Linked DNA regions of Homo sapiens: all the other regions are reported to be linked to region 2. Evidence: microRNA targets listed by miRTarBase, many of them from high-throughput screens and not tested one by one. Region 2 holds a microRNA gene; each other region holds the end of a gene's coding sequence. Distances are from middle to middle.
The links. The annotated mature microRNA hsa-miR-1207-3p reads UCAGCUGGCCCUCAUUUC and lies in region 2 at 2,829-2,846, shown strand. An mRNA with a match to its seed (bases 2 to 7 or 8) in the 3' UTR can be bound and repressed. Matches are read on the target gene's strand: a 7mer-m8 pairs with bases 2 to 8, a 7mer-A1 pairs with bases 2 to 7 and ends in A, and an 8mer does both.

Region 1 (6,273 bases), not on the chromosome of region 2:
CTCTGAAGAAGAGGACTCTATGGTGCCCAACTTATCGCCTCTTGAGAGTCTTGCCTGGCAGGTTAAGTGCCTTTTAAAATATTCCACAACTTGGAAACCTTTAAATCCTAATTCCTGGTTGTATCATGCTAAACTGTTGGATCCAAGCACACCAGTCCATATACTTCGAGAGATAGGTCTAAGACTCTCCCATTGTTCCCATTGTGTCCCCAAACTGGAACCAATTCCTGAATGGCCCCCTCTGGCCTCTTGTGGAGTCCCACCTTTTCAAAAGCCTCTTACAAGTCCCAGCCGGCTCTCTAGAGATCATGCCACTCTAAATGGAGCACTGCAATTTGCCACCAAACAGCTAAGCCGAACATTGAGTAGAGCCACTCCCATACCTGAATACCTAAAACAGATCCCTAATTCATGTGTTTCTGGGTGTTGCTGTGGCTGGCTGACTAAAACAGTTAAGGAAACAACTCGTACTGAACCCATCAACACTACTTATTCTTACACTGACTTCCAAAAGGCAGTTAACAAACTCCTAACTGCATCACTGTAAAGATCTACCATTTGCTCTGATATCTCTGATGTTGCTAATTGAGAAAGTGGTACAAAGTTAGTCATTACACAGCCCACTAATGCCTTCTCAGTCAAACTCTCTTATGCCCTGGCAAGCCAATGAGGATACCCTTTGACAAACCCTGTGGATAAAATGATAATATCAAGGTCAGGCATGGTGGCTCACACCTGTAATCCCAGCACTTTGGGAGGCTGAGGCGGGTGGATCTGCTGAAGTCAGAAGTTTGAGACCAGCCTTGCCAACACAGTGAAACCCTGTCTCTACTAAAAATAAAAAAATTAGCCGGGCGCAGCAGTGCACGCCTGTAATCCCTGCTACTCGGGAGGCTGAAACAGGAGAATCACTTGAACCCAGGAGACGGAGGTTGCGGTGAGTTGAGATTATGCCACTGTACTCCAGCCTGGGTGACAGAGCGAGACTCAGTCTCAAAAAAAAAAAAGGAGAATTAGTTAAGGGGACCATATTACAAAAGATAGTTGAATATTCTTCACACTCACTTCTCACCCTCCCCACCCCAATTTACTCTGCCTTTCTGAATGGCTTTAATGAGATACCTGATTATTAATGAAGAAAAGTAGACCACCACCCCTTTTGTTATCCAGACTTTAGAACAGCCATTGTTGAAAGCAAGAAGTTAGCTACCCACAATAATACCTTTCTGAGCATACTCTTCTCTAACATACATTTCTGTGGAAGTAGTTGAATTAAATTGAGTAACTACACAAAGGAAAATGGCAGGGCTATGAATTTCTTTCCCAGCTTTTATATAGATGTGCCTACATATGACACTCTTTAGGGTTCCTTTTATTTTTTCTTTTTTTTTTTTTTTGAGGTAGTTGAATTAAACTGGGTAACTACACAAAGGAAAATGGCAGGGATATGAATTTCTTTCCCAGCTTTTATATAGATGTGCCTGCATATGACACTCTTTAGAGTTCCTTTCACTTTTTCTTTTTTTTGGAAGGGGGCGGGGAGGCAGGAGGAGTGCAGTTTTAAGCCTAGCCTATACTACTACAAACTTATTATGGTACTTAAAATTACAGCATGAACGTTCTATATCGGAGTCTCCCACCAGGCTGTCTCTGACTAAATCAGCCTATAAGATCATCCCTTGGGATTAAACAAACACCTGTTCTGTAGGGAATGTGTTTCCTGAATCTTGGTACTCAGACTTTTGTCAAGAGTAAATAACATTTCAAAAGATGAATGGAAAAATGATTAAGAGAGCATTTCTGCTTTCAGCATTAACTGCTAATGGATTAAAATTTTAATCTGTATAGCATTTCCTGGAGTAAAAGCTCAAGTACTTTCCACATCCATTGCAAACTTTTCAGGAACCCTTCTAATTTTTTTTTTTTTTTTTTTTTTGAGACGGAGTCTTGCTCTGTCGCCCAGGCTGGAGTGTAGTGGCATGATCTCAGCTCACTGCAAGCTCTGCCTCCCGGGTTCGTGCCATTCTCCTGCCCTGCCTCCCGAATAGCTGGGACTACAGGCGTCCACCACCACTCCTGGCTATTTTTTTGTATTTTTAGTAGAGACAGGGTTTCACCGTGTTAGCCAGGATGGTCTTGATCTCCTGACCTCGTGATCCACCTGCCTCGGCCTCCCAAAGTGCTGGGATTGAACCCTTCTAATTTTAAAGAACCTTGTTATTAGAAAATCTCAGCCTAATACAATCTGAAGTTAAGAGTTTTAGCAGCATTGTTTTTCTAAGTAGATTTAGCTATAGATTTTCTTCTGGCCAAACAAGGAAGAGTATATGCCCTTGTAAATGAGTCTTGTTTTGTTTATTTAAATAGTCAGTCAAAACGTAGAAATCAGTATACGTAAAATAAAATGCATGAGACTATTAAATCTTTTCATATACTCTACAAATAAAATGAAATCTGTGTGTGGTCCTGGTTGACTGGGCATCTAAAGGGAATCAGAAAAGAGATTGTGAAAAGTTATATATATATCCTCTTCCTTATTTTAGTTTTGCTTTTTCCTATTTTCCATAATTAAGTGCCGTTTACAAAGTGGCATCAAAAAATTGAAGCAGGCCAGGCATGGTGGCTCATGCCTGTAATCCCAACAGTTTGGGAGGCTGAGGGCAGGTGGATCACTTGAGATCAGGAGTTCGTGACCAGCCTGGCCAACATGGTGAAAGCCCATCTCTACTAAAAATATAAAAATTAGCCGGGCGTGGTGGCATGTGCCTGTAATCGCAGCTACTTGGGAGGCTAAGACAGGAGAATTGCTTGAACCTGGGAGGTGGAGGTTGCAATGAGCTGAGATCGCGCCACTGCACTCCAGCCTGGGCAACAGTGAGACACCGTCTCAAAAAAAAAAAAGGTTAGGAATCACAAATTGTGTAAATATATAGCAACTTTAAGAAGAGAGAAGAATGCTTATAACCTAGTGAATATTTCTGCTGAGCCTTAGTTGTCTTGTCTAAAGGAAAAAAGAGGGAATTGTAGAATAAAAGTATTTGTTAGTGGAAATTATTGACCTGAAACCATATCATATTGTTAGTGTAACTGAATGTATCAGAAATTGTTCCTATGTAGGTATTCTGTGAAACTGGTTTCTAAAATGTTACAGGAAACTGTTTCCTTTTTTTTTGTTTGTTTGTTTAAGTGGAGGTGGGAGGAGGTAGGGAAGAGGTCTGAATATTAAAATATGTTTATGTTCATGTGTTCATAATACGTTCCTTTTTCTCTCTGTGTGTGTATAAAAGTGCCTTGCTCATGAATGCATTTTTGCTATTCACTTCGAAAGGAAGCCTTTCCCCAGCTTGGCAGCTGAATAAACCAATAGCTTTGTACATGCTGAACAGAGTATGGTCATTTGTCCTCAACAAATGAAATAGATCCTACTTTGCTTAAGGCATATTCTACATTCACTAAGTACTGAATAGAGTTAATAGATACAGTACCTGAATCTATATAGTATGTCTGACAGGAGATGACTTGGCGTCTCTAGAGAAGAAACACACTTGAAGAAGAAAATGTCTGATATTCAGTCAAGATTCAAAGTGAGCTTATTTGTTTATGTATTTTAAGTAATTCCAGGTTGCACAAAATAACAGGTACCTAAATAAGCCTTAAGTTAACTTTTTGTGTGGCATAAACACTGGGTTTGGGAATGAATTTACTACCTTTGCACTCCCTATGTTGGCTTCTGTTAAATGCAGTCACCATAATTAAGATAAAAAGATTATTTTATCCTCTATTTATAGAAATATTTATCAAAGGAGTAAGGAAACTATTTCTAAACCAGTGGACATTAACTGTCTTTTACTTTCTCAGTGCAGATAGGCAACTTTTTTTTTTTTTTTTTTTTTGAGATGGAGTTTCGCTCTTGTTGCCCAGGCTGGAGTGCAATGGCGCAATCTCGGCTCACTGCAACCTCCACCTCCCGGGTTCAAGCAATTCTGCCTCAGCCTCCCGAGTAGCTGGAATTACAGGCATGTGCCACCACGCCCAGCTAATTTTGTATTTTTAGTAGAGATGGGGTTTCTCAATTGGTCAGGCTGGTCTCTAACTCCTGACTTCAGGTGATCCACCCACCTCAGCCTCCCAAAGTGCTGGGATTACAGGCATGAGCCACCGTGCCCAGCCATAGGCAACATTTTTATTAAAACAGTCCAGATACCTTGAGCCTCAAAGACCATAATCACGTCTTTTAATCCCATCTGCTTCCTAAGAAAAGAAAAAAATCCATACATGCATGGCAGGAGGGCATATGATAGGTCCCCTCTAGGGGATAGAAGCCCTTCCTGCTGGGTCTTCTATCACACCTGTCCATATTTTAAAAAAAAAGTCTCTGATGAAAATGTTTTGATAGTGTAAATAGCTAAAGCATTTAAAGACTTTAGAAGTCACTTGGGTTATTTTCTGATGCGTAAGTTGGCTTGCATCTGGCTTTCTACTTTTGGCTCCAGTGTTAGAGAATATGTCTTTTGGAGCAGCCTGTTAGTTTTAAATATCTCTTGTTAGAAATTTAGCCATTCATCCAATATTGCTATGGAGAAGTGCCTACTCTAGTGCAGACACTGGGAATGCAAAACTAAATAAGATTACTACACATAGGAAATTAGTTTTAAAATATATGAACCTATATGTTACCCCAAGCCATTTCTGCTGTCTAGGGTCATATTAAATAAACCTAAACCCTAATCCATATGTTGGCCCTTCACATATTGAAAATAGCTTATAGTGGAGAATCATATAAAAGAATTGAATGGAGCAGCCATCCAAGTATAATGAAGATTCATCTGGAGGGCAGACTTCAATTAAACCCCCACAACGGATACTCAGCCAAGGAAATGGAGAAAATATATAGATATTTTGTATCCAGATTTAAATTATATCTGCTAATCACAAGGTAGTGGCACAAAGATCAGGGCCAAAAGTGTTTTGCTCAGGTAGCTAGGACATATAGAACAGCCTGAGAAGTATGGATAACTTCTCAGACTTCATGAGTTAACTGTGCAAGCTGGTAACGTATCTGTCCGCCAGTGATACCCATTGGACTGAGGGAGTTACATTAGCTGGACCAACCACCAGTACTTCTATGTCAACTTGCTGTTGCTAAAAGAAAAATGTCTATGATGTGTCTCAAATAATTTTAAATACAGTTGAGTTAATGACTACATATTTGAGTCTGCTAATTCCATGCAGTTTGCCAAGCTCTTCCTTTCAATTAGCAGCCGCAGTGAGACTTAAGTTTGCAACTGAGACCAAGAAATGGAAAGGATGAGGATATACCACAGTGACCTGACACTTGCTGGCTTCCCATCTTCTGTGAGAGCTATGACCAGCTATTCTCAATGAGCTCTGGAAAATGAATGCCTGGTTTTCTTTTATTATTATTATTATTTTTTTATTTTTTTGACACAGGGTTTCGCTCTTGCCTAGGCTGGAGTGCAGGGGCATAATCTTGGCTCACCGCAGCCTCGACCTCCTGGGCTCAAGCCATCCTCCCACCTCAGCCTCATCAGTAGCTGTGGACTACAGGTGCACACCACCACACAGGCCAATTTTTGTATTTCTTTGTAGAGGCAGTTTCACTCAGGCTGGTCAGGAACTCCTGAGCTCAAGTGATCCTCCCACATCAGCCTCCCAAAGTGCTGGTGTTACACTGGTACCTGGTATAAAAAAAAAAAAAAAAAAAAAGGAAAATAACAGTGTAACAGGAAGACAGCGATAGGGTTATTTCTTCTAAACTGTGGAGTCAGTTAAAAACGTTAGCAACAGTTTCAAGTTGAATCATAAAACGAAGTTGACTGGAATTTGGGCAGTTTATTTAGGAAGATTCTGACACGTGATATGAAAATTCCTGGGATCATTAGGGGAGTTAGGCTCTATATAACAACAATCATTCAGGAGGGACTCAGGATACTGGTTAGCTTAACAAGATTAAAACTGACTTCCTAGTATACACATAAACCAAGCTAGTTTCTCAAATTAGCAACAGAAACCAGATGAAACTCCTCAAATGAGTGTTGCAAAATAAGGAGCTGGTACTATAGTTTTATTTGGGGAGAAATTGTTAAGTTTGGGTTAACTGCTCAGCCTATGCCTGATACTACCCTTCCATCTATGGTATCAGCTGTGGCACCTGACACTCCAATGTATCAGCTGATGGTTTTGGTTTACAATAAATTAATTAAGCAATGGACCAGTAGGGGCAACTTCTTTGAGAGGTACCCAAACAAGTGG
Region 2 (6,411 bases):
ACTTGTTCAACCTGGGAATGGCAGAGCTGGGATCTGAAGTCCGGGAGCCTGGCTCCGTAGGCCTCTGTTTAAGCCACTGCATCTGTTGCCTTGTGGAATGTTCTTAGAACTGTAGGATACTGGTTCCCACATGGCCGAGAGTCTTCTCTCACTAGTTCGTGCTCCATGGTGATGGAGAAGCATAGTTCTAATCTGTCATTCTGTTGCTCTGGAGCCTACACAGCCCCCCATCGCATCTGGAGGGAGAAGCCCAGCTCCTTAGCACAGCACCTGAGAAATACCCTTTACAGTCTGGCCACTGGCTGAACATTCTTTCACTCTCCATGCCACACTGCTCTGTGAGTACCATCTGAAGGTCCTCTCCCTTTTCTCTGTCTTCTAAATGTTCACTCTTCAATATCTAACTCAAATATCCTCTTCTCTAACTTGTCCAGGAAGAATGAGTAAGGCCCTTTCCTTTGTTCCCCAGGCTCTTAGTTTCTCCATCTCTAATCACGTAGATTACAGCCCTTTCTTTGGTTTTCTCCAGGGGACCAAGGAGTGGGGCTCTGCCTTTCTCATGTCTGCTCTGCCTTCACGGTCCCCCACAGTGTCTTCAGTGGATGGCCAACCTCTCATGAACAGGATGTCCTCTTGTCTGAGGTTCTACTTTGTTCCAGCCATGGAGTCATACTCTCTTTATCTTTTGACTATCCAAAGGTGTTCTGTTGGACGACTGATGCCTTCCTCCAAGGTACTTTGGGCTCCCAAGTGTGCAGTTGACATTTGCTGTGCCTTCTCCACCAGGCTTTAGTTTTTGATGTATGCTGAGCTTCAGTGGAGATTTGCTAGCCTTGGGCTTTCTGTGTTCTTGAATCTCTCAGAGTCCAGAAGAAAAGGAAAGCTGACACTTTCTAGGAATGACCTGTGAGAAGAGAGGTTGGTGTCTTGCTGCTAAGTTCCGCTTGATTCTGAACTAAGTCACCATGGGCCAGAGGAGGCAGGGATAAGAGGAGTGGTTTCTTGGCCACCAGAATGGAAACGTTTTTGTTTTCTTGTGTGCTTTTGTGGAAATGGTGGCAGTTGCTCACTAAAGAGAACTAAAACCCTTTTACTAGAGCCCCACCAGGTCTGAAGAGGATGGGCGCGTGGGAGCCATTATCTTGTAAAGGACGCTATTGAGACCTTGCTACTGCTGCAGTGAAGAGCACAGGAAAAGCCAAGCTTAAAAAACACTGGGCGAATCCTAAGAACTTTTCATGCAGAAACACATGCATGATGAGAAGAGAATCTTCATTACAACATTGTTTGACACAGAAAAACGAGACTCAGCTTAAATGCTCATTAGTTAGTGATTGGTTGATTAAGTTGTGATAAAATGGAACACTAATACAGCTGTTTAAAAAATTAGTAAAAAAAAATCAGTATGTGAGATGATGCACCTGTTAATTAACTCAACTTAGCCATTCCACAATGTATACATCATTCAAAACTTCACATCATATATTATAAATATATACAATTTTTATTTGTGAATTAAAAATTAATCTAAAAAAATTAGTGGCTATATGAAGTAATTGGGAACAATCTTGAAGCTATATTAACTACCAAAGAGCAAAGTCAACCTTAACAATGCTGACTTTTTAAAGAATAGTGCCTAGAACACTGTGTGGAGTATGCTAACAGCTACACACTAATGCACAGCCACCAACCCCAGATCAGTTACGTGAACTTCTGCATTCACAAACACACTTAACACACTCTGTGGCTATTGCCTCTTTACTGACCTGTAAGTCAGTTCTAGAAGACAGACGATCCATGAAGGCAGGTCCTAGCCTGCCCATTTGCATTGGTATCTCCAAGGCCAAGCTAGAGAAGGCACACAATAGGCTTTCCACTAATATTTGTGAATGAATGAATGAACAGAGAGAGGAGTTTTCTTTCCACAGTTTCCTTCTACCTGCTACTCCTTGAGCATATGAGGCTGGAATCTAAGCCCTGAGGTCACTCACTGCTCTCCTGGGTACTATCCCTGGCCTCCCGTCCTTTTCCTTGAGCTTCTGTGCTCTGCAAGGCTTTCTCATTATCCTTTAGGCTACAGAGAAACAAGGAGACGGGAGAGCCTTGAAATGGACCTTCAAGATTACAATGTGTAGCTGACATTGTCAGTTAAGTTGGGCAGATCTGACTTCGCTGATTAAGTGGATGTATGAGCCGATCCTCCCCAGAAGCTGGGATCAGCTTCCCCATCTGATGGTGAGTCAGACCTGCTGGGGTTTGGGTCCTCGCTCCAGCATGGCTGCCTGTGTGACCTTGGCCACTTTACTTAACCTTGCTGAATCTCAATTTCCTGATCTGTAAAGGAAGCTAAAAATGCCTCTCTTGAGGTTGTAGTGAGGATTAAATGTGATAGCATAAGTGAAAGTGCCCTTTGAAGAAAGAGGAAGGCGAAAGCGCTTATTGTGTCAGGAGAAATGTGTGGAGAGCCCCCTGTTGTTCTCAGGTGTCTCATCCTTCCCAGGGAAAAATCCCCATGCCAAGTCAGAAGAGGTTATAATTTGGCTCTTACTCTTTTATTCAGGCACTTCTTTCGGCTGCCCAGGGTTTTCAGCTTAAGCAAATAAATTACCCTTCTCCACTGGACTCTGTGTTCTGCAGCCAGCCATATGTTTAAGCTTGATAGAGATTTTTATCTGGCTTGGTAATATTACCCAGCAAGGGATGACATTTCTTATCAGAGGCCCTGAGGAATCAGAGATAGGAGCCCTTTCTTTTTCCTGGCCGCCAGGCCTCCATGTGCAGGGCTGGCAGGGAGGCTGGGAGGGGCTGGCTGGGTCTGGTAGTGGGCATCAGCTGGCCCTCATTTCTTAAGACAGCACTTCTGTTAGCTGACCTACACAGAAGCAGGTCATTTCGAGATGTTTGCGTCTTGGAGCCACTGATAGAAGCAGGGCAAGGGAGAGTGAATGAGGAAGGAAGGCGGGAGTGTGATGACGCATGCCCAGCTTTGCGCGGAGGCAGAGCACTTGCCTGTGTGGGGCCCTGCCCTTCTCTTGAGAGGCAGGCGGGCCCTAGCTGCAGCGTCAAGGTCTGGGGATTCTGTGGCTCTGTAGGGTGAAGGGCACTGGAGACCTACCAGGGGCTGGGCCATTGGAGTGGTGGGTGCTGGGGAGCTTCCGTGGGCCCCTCCAGGTCCACTCCTTGCTCTTCTCTGCCTTGTTTTGTGCCCAGAAGGCTGACCTGTGTGGATGCATTATCAGGGTGGATGCAACACAGGGCTGCCATGCTCTCTGGTATCAGTTTGGAAGGCACTGGCAGGATGGGAAGGCAGGCGGGGAGTGAGGTCAGGGGGCCTATCCTTCCACTGCCTCCCTGCTGCTCCCTGACTGATTCAGGTAAGGTTTACACCGGGGCTCTAGGTTTGAATTTTGATTCTGGCATGTACTTGCTGTGTGATATTAGGCAAGTGGTGGAACCTCTCTGTGCGTCCGACTTCTCATCTATAGTAACGCTTTTGCATTCCATTGATCTCTTTGCCTCTCATTTGCCCTGAATGCTGAAGGAAAGGACACTGCTGTATCCCCTGAGGGACTGTCTGAGCCCAAAGTACACTGGGGACAAGGGCTTCAGGGTGGGCAAGGAGATGACCGATGATCACGTGATTTGGAACTATAGCCTCCATTGGAGACACGTGCTCTGGGCTCTTTCCCTCCTGAGTTTTGGGAAGTCCTGGCCTGTGCAGCCTAATTCTCAAGTACTAATCTTGCAATCATAAGAAGAGGAAGGAGAAGTGGTTTTCCCTCTCCCTGGACCCATTCCAGCCAGCAGTTCCTGACTTTGCTTCCTTCCTGTTGGTGCCCACTCTGTTTCCTTCCATCCCTTCCCCAACCTCTCCCATCCCATGCCTCATGTTGGGCAACTTGAGTTTAACTGTCTCTTCTTCCAGTGGCCAAGTCCAAATTCTGAAAGCACAGTTCTGACCATGTCCCTGTCCAACTCAAAAACAGTAGCTCCGTGTCACCCACAGGCTTGAAGTCAGACCTCTCAGGGGGCATTAAGTCCACCGCAACATCACTCCAGCCTGTGAATAAAGACTGAATGCCTCCGAGCCTCTTATGTGGGGAATCAGTTCTGGTAAACAGGTCTCACTTCTTGTCTTTTAAACACTACTTGCTTTCCTTGACGTCTGTGCTTTGATCCCATTGTTTTTTCTCCCTTGGATGCCTGAGAGATCCATGGGCTCTGGCTTCAGAGAGTGCTGGGTTCAGACCTCAGCTCCAACAGTTGCTGGCTCTGTGACCCTAGGAATGTCACCTCACCACTCCAAGCCTCTGTATCCTTGACATTAACCTGGGCTGATAGTTCCTACCTGCAGGGTTCTTGTGAGAAGAACCTGTCTAAAGGCTCCTACTGGGGCTTGACTTGTCAGATAAATGAATGGGGTTTTCCCTAACCTTCTAATTGACTACCCCACTGATTATTCAAACTCCACCTGTCCTCAAGTTCCATTCCATCATTCACTTCCTCTGTGGGTTTTTCTGCCACAAAGTCATCTTCCTCTGTTTGAAAGACTCTTAGTTCCTCATGTATGACAGCAAGAGTGGACCTCATCTCTTTCTTTTTGTGTCTGACTTCCCAGCACAGTCTCAATTTCTTCAGGGCATTGACTGTGGTGTAAGATTCTCAGCTTGAGCACTGGAACCATTTATGGGACGATTGAGTATTCAACTCCAAGAGAATGAAAGAGAGTCACTTGTTCTTTCATTGAACGAAATTGATTGAGTGCACATGATATGTTGTGTCTGTGCTTCACACTGGAGTTGTAAGGATGCATAAAATGAAGATTCTGTCTTCACATAGCCTATCATCCAGTGAGGAGGTTGCATTATTGGGAATCTGTGCCAAGCCTGGATTGCATAAGACATAGGTAGCTGAGAACCTGGTGCTGACTGGGGACTGGGGGAAGTTCTGTGCCCAAGGAGAGGAGGACTCTTCCCTTCAGATGGATGCCCATAATTTTATCTTTAACTTTTAAGAATTTGGCTTTAATGTGCCTCAATGAAGACCTCCTTATGTTTAATAAATTACAAATTATTTGGACTTCATGGATTGAGATGTTTATTTTCCTCTCCAGATTTGGAGAGTTCTATGTATTTTTTTCTTTAAATAAACTTTCTATCACCTTCTCCTCTGCTTTTATTCCTCCTCTTGAGTTCCCATAATGTGTATTTCAGTTCACTTGATGGTGTCCCATAAGTCCCATAGGTTTTCTTTTTCATTTTTTTTTCTTTTTATTCTTCTGACTAATTTCAAATGGCCTGTCTTTGACCTCATTGATTCCATCTTCTGGTCGATCAAGTCTGCTGCTGAAGTTCCTTATAGAATTTTTCAGTTCAGTCATTTTGCTTTACCACCAGAATTTCTGTTTGGGTCTTTTTTTATGGTTTATCTCTCTTTGTTGAACTTCTACTTTGTTTATGTATTGTTTTTCTGATTTTGTTGTTTATGTTCTCTTTAAGTTGAGTTTCTTCAAGACAATTATTTTGAATTCTTTGTCAGACAATGTATAGGTCTCAATTTCTTTAGGATTGGTTACTGGTGCTTTAGTTTGTTTTTTAGTCATGTTTCCTTGTCTATTTGTAACCCTTGGGGTCTTGTGTTGATGTCTACATATTTTAAGAAGTAGAGATCTCTTTTATTCTTTACCAATTAGCTTTGGCCAAGAAAGCTGTTCACCAGTCAAGATATTTTGGGTGGATTGGCTGGCAGGGTCTGAGGGCAAGTTTACTGCTGGAATTCTTAAGCGGGCTGGCCTGGTGCCTGAGTCCATGGGTACAGGCCTAGATTCTGGGTCCCTGGGGGCCAGACTGGCACTGAGATACAGTGGGATGGCTTTATTGACTGTGTTCATGTCTGTAGCATGCGTCTGTGAAGGCCAACCTGGTACTAGGATCTACACTGATGTTGGGTGCTTACTTCACTCTCCTTCCTCCACATGAAGGGTTTCTCTCTTCATGCTGCACTGTGCTGTCTTGGGGGAAGGGTGATGTGAGTGATGTGAAACTCTTATTCCTACCCTTTTCAATGCATCTTTTATTATTTCTATGCTCCACCCAGCTGCTGTAATTGCTCATCTGGATTTCTTAGCTCTTGTGAAGGTATATTTTTCATGGGTGGTTGTTCAAATTGCTGTTTCTATGAAGGGATAGACACTGGAGACTACTATTCTGCCATCTTGCTCACATTACTCTTCTCTTCATAGTATTATTTAAAATGATACATTTAGTTTTGTTTATTTCACATCTGTATTCCTTCACTAGATTGGGATCCTGTAAGGGGAAGAATGAGGTCAATTGTGTTTACCACAGTCATAACAATAAAAACCAGTGCTGTTGTCACACTATGTGCAGGGCACAGTTTTAAGTTCTTTAT
Region 3 (6,411 bases), 100 Mb from region 2:
ATCAAAAAGATGCTTTTCTGCAGTTACAGCACCTCATGGCAGCTGTGGTCTGTGGCTGTTTGGGGCATTGCTGTTAGAGCCGGCCACGGCAGAATTGTAGGGACAGTGACGTTTGCTTTTGGTCTTGCCCCCTCCCCACAAGTGCTTCCTCCCTTCTCACCCTACCATCCCGTAATACACAGCACTCCTGTCCTACTGCCCTGTGTTTGGTTATTCTCAACTGTCTGTTCCCCAGCCCCGGCAAAAGGGTCAGTTCCGGGGTTCTTAACCTTTATGACTCAGGCCTCTTCTCCAAATACTGTTTAAATGCATGTATAAATACATAGGATTACAGAAGAAACCATCATATTGAAATAATACCAAAATATTACAGAAAACAAGTTTGTGATACTGTAATATGTGTTCTTCTCTATTAACACATTAAATAACAGGATCTGGCAGCAGAATTAGCACTTTCTGTAATTTCAGTGTAGTCAATGAGCGTCAATGATATTTTGAGGCATTGATGATACCATAATGGGACATGAAAGATCTGTGATTTTCGTTAGTAACAAAGTTGCAGGTGCTGCCAACGCTAATGATAGTTTGTTGTCTGCATTCATGGTCAAAGAAATGCTACATCTCAGTCAGCGCTTGGGTAGAACAAAGATGTGCGTTTTTCCCCATTCACGTTTGCAGATCTGCTGTCAGTTGACCTGTGCTAAGAACCTGAGTTACCTGATAGATGAGACATTTGCTCTTCCCCCCACCCCCTCCATTTAATTGAGCATTTCTCAGCAACCCTTTTAACTGGGTTAACTGTAAAAATGGTGAGTCATGGGTGTTACTGATCACAAGCATGCAGTTTGTTTACATGTTGACTTCTTTGTATCAGCGAAACCTTCACGGCTCTTCTAAATTCCTCTGATTTTGGTTGCCCAAATTATAATGACCGACTTCAGAGTATACTTTCACATGTTATCTCACTGATACTTAGAAGCCCCCTGCATTGGGCTGTTCCGTTCTCCATTTCAGAGGTAGGGTTGCAGTTCCTAAAGTGCAGCTCTGGGGCCTGGGTCCCGCCGTCCCCCTGTGCACCCTTTCCACCCCTTTCCTTGCTTACTGTCCTGTTTGTTGTTTGGTGTTCACATGGGCAGAGACATCCAGCAGGAGGCCTTCCGAGCCAGTCACACCCACTGGCGGGGCGTTTCCTTTGTCTACAACCACTACCTGTTCTCTGGCTGCTTCCTGGTGGTGCTGCTGGCCATCCTGCTGTACCTGCTGCGGCTGCGGCGCATCCACAGGCGCACTCCCCGGAGCAGCTCGGCCGCCGCCCTCTGGATGGAGGAGGGCCTTCCCGCCCAGAATGCCCCGGGGACCTTGTGATCCAGCTCACAGCTCCACGAAGACTCAAAAGGAAAAGCCATTTTTGCCTCAGGGTTTCTCCTCTTTATTTTCCTGTGGTTTTGTTTTTTCTTTCCCTTTTTTGTTCCTCCAAACAAAAACAAAATGCAGGCCGAGCGCGGTGGCTCACGCCTGTAATCCCAGCACTTTGGGAGGCCGAGGCGGGCGGATCATGAGGTCAGGAGATCGAGACCATCCTGGCTAACACGGTGAAACCCCGTCTCTACTAAAAATACAAAAAATTAGCTGGGTGTGGTGGCGGGCGCCCGTAGTCCCAGCTACTCAGGAGGCTGAGGCAGGAGAATGGCATGAACCTGGGAGGCAGAGCTTGCAGTGAGCCGAGATCACACCACTGCACTCCAGCCTGGGCGACAGAGTGAGACTCCGTCTCAAAAAAAAAAAATGCATTGTTTATAAGCCCTGCTGTCTAGAAGTATTGCGTTTAGCCATTTTGAGTACAGCATTAAATTGAGGAGTGGGGAAGAGGGAAATTCACTTGATTTTTGCTGCACAGGATATCTGCCAAAAATAAATGAGATTTCTGGGGTTTCTCTAAGGAATGTTAAATTTAAACACATGCACTTTGATACTGGAGGGAGGTGGAAAGATGCATTCTGTCAGTGGAGAGGGGACTGAATAGTGATGCTTTCATAGAACCAAAAAACTTACTGCCTGAAATGATAATCCTCTTTTTTCTCTATCTTGAAAGCTCTAACCTGAAGAGGGTGATTTTTTTTTTTATTTATTGTTCAGGTCTGTTACTGTATATGTTTTCTTTGCAAATTTAAATTTTTTAAACCATTTATATCCAAAACAGAGAAACATGGGCACCAGGAGATAACCATTTATAAAAGTGATAGTGAACTATCGACTACAGCTTTGTGCGAGTGTGTGAAAAATCCCAAGAAACCAGCGTGAGGGGAGGCAATGCTGGTTCTTTAAAAACACACACTTCAGAATTTACTGGTACATTTTATTTAGAAAAATCCTCGTTACTGTTATCTTTTCCTGACCGCAGGTAATTACGCTCCTTATTCCATATTTCAGTGGCATTAGAACACTGTGGTTTTGAAAGAATTGGAAATTCCTAGTTTCACCAGTTTCGGTTTTATTGGAACTAGAGCACATGCCCACTTCTTGCTCAGTATTCCTCAGTGTTTCTGCTTAATCGTGCCTCAGTTTCTTCCAGCTTCCAATTGGTGTTTCCCCCACCCCCCTTAATTAAAAGTCATCTCAGCTTTTAATCGTACTGGGAGACCCCATGCACAGCCTGCCGAGTCCTCTTCCTAACCGCATTGACTGAGGCTGTTGCTGGCAGCACCACTGTAAATCCAGAAGGGAAGAGTCTGCATCCAATACAGGAAATAAATTCACATTTTGAAGGAAAAAATTCGACAATTTAAGCCAAAATCTAAAAAGGACAATTGGATTGGCATATGTGAGATTGGTGTTTTTTCACCTATTTATTTAGTTGAGAAGTTTGGGGAATTCTCGTACAGTTTTTTTAGGTGGAGTTTGTTTTGTGCGAGTGTCTGTGTGTGCTGTTCCCTAACTCCAGAACAGTTAAATTCCTGTAGTTGGTAGCAGATTAGTACCCAGAAGTGGGGTTGTTGCTATAACAGATAACTGAGGATATTATAAAAGTGGCTTTGGAACTAGGTACTGGGCAGAGGCTGGGAGAGTTTGGAGAAACAGGAGAGAAAAGGCCTGTATTGCCATGAACTGAGCATTAGGGGCAGTTCTGCTGAGGGATCAGAAGAGAAGACCAAGGGAATTCTGTCCCAGTTGTGGCTCAAACTGCCTCAGGTGCAGCTTAACCTGCGTCTCTGGAAGGTAAAATGCATCTGATCCTTGAGGCAAGAGCTGTGGGGGCATGGCTCCCTCACCTGGATTTCAAAGCGTGTTACCAGCAGCCTGGGGACCCAGGCTCTGCCTCTGGATTTACCTGCATCGTATTTGCGCTTCGTGGTCAAAGTTGTTAAGAAAGGGGTGAGCTTCTGGCTACCTAATAAGTTGGTCTTGGCCACCTGCCTGCGACACTTCCTGGAGGAGCCATGGATTATTGGTGGAGGCTGCAGGGAGCTGGCGATGGAGCCACTGGTGTCAGCAGCAGAGAGGGAAGAAAGGAAAGGAAGGGGCCACAAATGGTTGAAGTGGGCAGGTGGGCACCCAGGGAGTTAGGGGACCCCGCCTTCCAGCTCTGGGCATAGAAGAGTTAGTCACATACCTGAGGATCCTGAAACAAGGGCTGAGAAAACCTCATTGCTCCAGCTGAGAGGTAGTAGTGGATTTGCCATTTTTAAACAGTTGCCTAAGAAAAAACGTTGAAGAATATGCAGCAGACACTATATGTGGCCTGTAAAGCCTAGAATATTTACTAAAATATTTACAGAAAAAGTTTGCTGGTCCTTGTGAGAACAATGCAGTTCAAAAAAGGATACAGACAGAAGCATCCTCTTAAATCAGGAATGTAGTTTCCATTTGTGGGCACGAAAAGATGGACAAGAGAAGTAACCAAACTTCAATCTTAAAATATTTGTTGCACCAGAATTTCACTTCGGATTTTTCCGTCTAGATTATTTTCAAGATGAGTTTTGAAACAAACCAAGAAACCTGCCCCTCACCCAAAATTGTTTAAAAAGAGACCACTCAAGGGAGTTCATTATGCCGTATGGAGATGTCTGCAGTCGCAGCAAATCACATTCCAGAGAAGGTCTCGCGTAGGTGAAGACAGCCAGGTGCTTTCTCTAAGAGATACAGGGTGGGTGAGAGACAAGCCAGGGAGGATCTTAATTCAAGAGAAGAATTCATACCAAGAGCTGACCAAGAAGGCAGTAAATTCTGTGTACTTGTAGCAGAAGAAATTGGACTAGGAACTTGCCCAAAGCTTTATCAAAGAAAAGCATTGTGTTCAATCTTGGTAGAAACATGCCAGCAATAAGTGCTTATGTTCCATAGCCATATCATGGGCTTCTCACTTTTAAACCTCCTCCAGGGGATGTTCTCAGACATTTCACAATCCCTCTGGGGACATTACAGTAGAAGAGAAACACATGGAACTGTACCAGTGCTTTTTGCCCATGTTCATCCTAAGCTCCGGCTTTAGGCAGTGCTTTCTGACCTGGGCGGAGTGAAGACGCTGCTGGTGGCTGAGGCCAGTAACATGGGGCCCCTGCCCAGCCACCCTGAAGGCTGGGTAGGTCCCTCTTTTCACCACCAGTTTTCCACATCTGTGTACTCTAGATTAACAAACTCTGGATAAACAGATATTTACATTTTAAACTCAGGCCTACACAGAGTAGTTTTCCTTATAAGGAGCATGTATCACTTAGCAAGAAACTAAAAATGGCAAATGAGTTTTTCATCCTTTAAGAAAAAAATCAGCTTTAGAATTCTCTGCGGTCAGTTGTGTGCAATGCAACAAAACTACCTTTCAGTAAATTACTTAGTTATTTATTTCAGTGTTTTGTTTCTTTTGATACTAAGTTTCCCTTTCAATAATGAATGATGTGACCAACCAAGGAGAATTTGTTTGTTCTGTACTAAAATTATATTTTACAGTTAGGAATTATAAAAAGCAAGGGAGCATCTTTAAATGTTTTTTGTTTAAGCGATGTCTTCCATCCAAAGTAAGAATAATACTCTCGGAAGGTCCTTTTGGTGTCATGTCACTTGCTGTATGTGGCAGCCTTACAGTGCCACACTTGGGTACTGAAAAATCAATAAAACGAAAGTTCATCATCCCATGGCCCGTAGACTGTGTGGGCTTGCTTCCTTGTCATCTTTGAATCTTCTTACTCATTAGAATGATGAGTTGAACTTGAGTCCAAATTCAGTGAAATACATTGTCTGAGTCTGACGCACACTCTTTGCATGTGTTGTGTTGGGTGTGCATACAGTGAAGCACAATTGTGTGGGGTTGTGGAGAGGGCGTCCACACTCTCTGCAGCTCAGAAAGCAGATATTTCACAAGTAGTGACCAACCCACGACGTTAAGCCATTCACCAACAATAATTGCCACTCTGAGATGACTGTTTATAAGGTCACCATTTTAAGTACCTACTTGTATATAGACAAGGAAAAGTAATAAAATTAACCAATTTTTATGTATTTAATAGTAACAGCAAATGCTGACTTTATGTTACACTGTTTTGCAGTTCGATCTAAGCTTAGAACCTTTGGCTTACTTCCAGAAAATTATGACTGTCATTATTAATGTTACGTGTTACCAATATGGAGGATGACATTAGACGCTCAGCATGTTTCTCAGCCGTTGGAGAATACATAGATGTTCTCCTGGAGCAGGAAGGTGGGCCTGAGCCATAACCTGAAAATAGATGATAGAGACAGATGGGAAGGGAAGGGGACCAGCTGTTAGGACCAACAAAAATAAAGGCCTGAGACATGCCGGAGAGGAGAGGGAAGCGCAAAAACAAAATGAGAGAACAGAGCCAGCAAAGTGAGCTCAAGGGAGGTCCTCAAGCCATTGATCGCTAGGAAAACAGGACACAGCATTAAGATAGAACTGTCGTAAATAATTTTTGAGGCAGTGCAATGACTATAGGGCTTTTTGCCTGACTTTAAATACGTTAAAATATCTAAGATGTTAAAAGACATCTAAATTTTTATTCCACTTGGTGGAAGAGAAGTCAGTGCCTATTTCCAACACTAACCATGTTGACAGGTCTGAAAAGCCATGGTTCTGTGTTTTTGTTTTCAGTCTGTTTCCATTTGTCCTATGAATTGGCATGTGCCCTGTGGGTTTTTTTGGTTTTTTTGAGATCCGGAAATGCTAATGGTTTGCACAGAGGGGGTCGTGAGGTGCAGGTCACCTCTGTCAGAGTCACAGTGTCTTCTTTTGGAAACGTCATGAAAAGACAAAGGAGTGCCCGGCTAATCCCAAAGCACGCCTTGGCAGAGTGGATCTGCCTGGAGCATCCATCCGTGGCAGCATGAAAGGCAATCCTGTGAGAGTCTTCCTGGCCCCACCTCGTCTGGGAGCATGTGGGCCTGTGATCCCACCTCCTC

Region 1: miRTarBase lists DCAF16 as a target of hsa-miR-1207-3p. Seed matches in the 3' UTR shown: 7mer-A1 at 3,349-3,355.
Region 3: miRTarBase lists ENTPD4 as a target of hsa-miR-1207-3p. Seed matches in the 3' UTR shown: 8mer at 3,651-3,658.

The regions. Positions count from the first base shown.
Region 1 is chr4:17,797,765-17,804,037 of GRCh38, reverse strand. DCAF16 (DDB1 and CUL4 associated factor 16) reads left to right here. Exons shown (of 3, transcript NM_017741.4): 3 at 1-3,383. The coding sequence ends at 547. Among named protein-coding and RNA genes, the nearest start is that of DCAF16, 9.9 kb to the left of the region's middle.
Region 2 is chr8:128,046,375-128,052,785 of GRCh38, forward strand. It overlaps MIR1207 (microRNA 1207), which reads left to right and starts at 2,778; the gene lies at 2,778-2,864. The region is part of intron 6 of PVT1 (Pvt1 oncogene); the gene reads left to right. RefSeq lists enhancers at 1,857-3,973, 2,493-3,038, a silencer at 2,121-2,304 and a cis regulatory region at 2,917-3,169.
Region 3 is chr8:23,427,880-23,434,290 of GRCh38, reverse strand. ENTPD4 (ectonucleoside triphosphate diphosphohydrolase 4) reads left to right here. Exons shown (of 13, transcript NM_004901.5): 13 at 1,137-5,129. The coding sequence ends at 1,365. Among named protein-coding and RNA genes, the nearest start is that of ENTPD4, 27 kb to the left of the region's middle.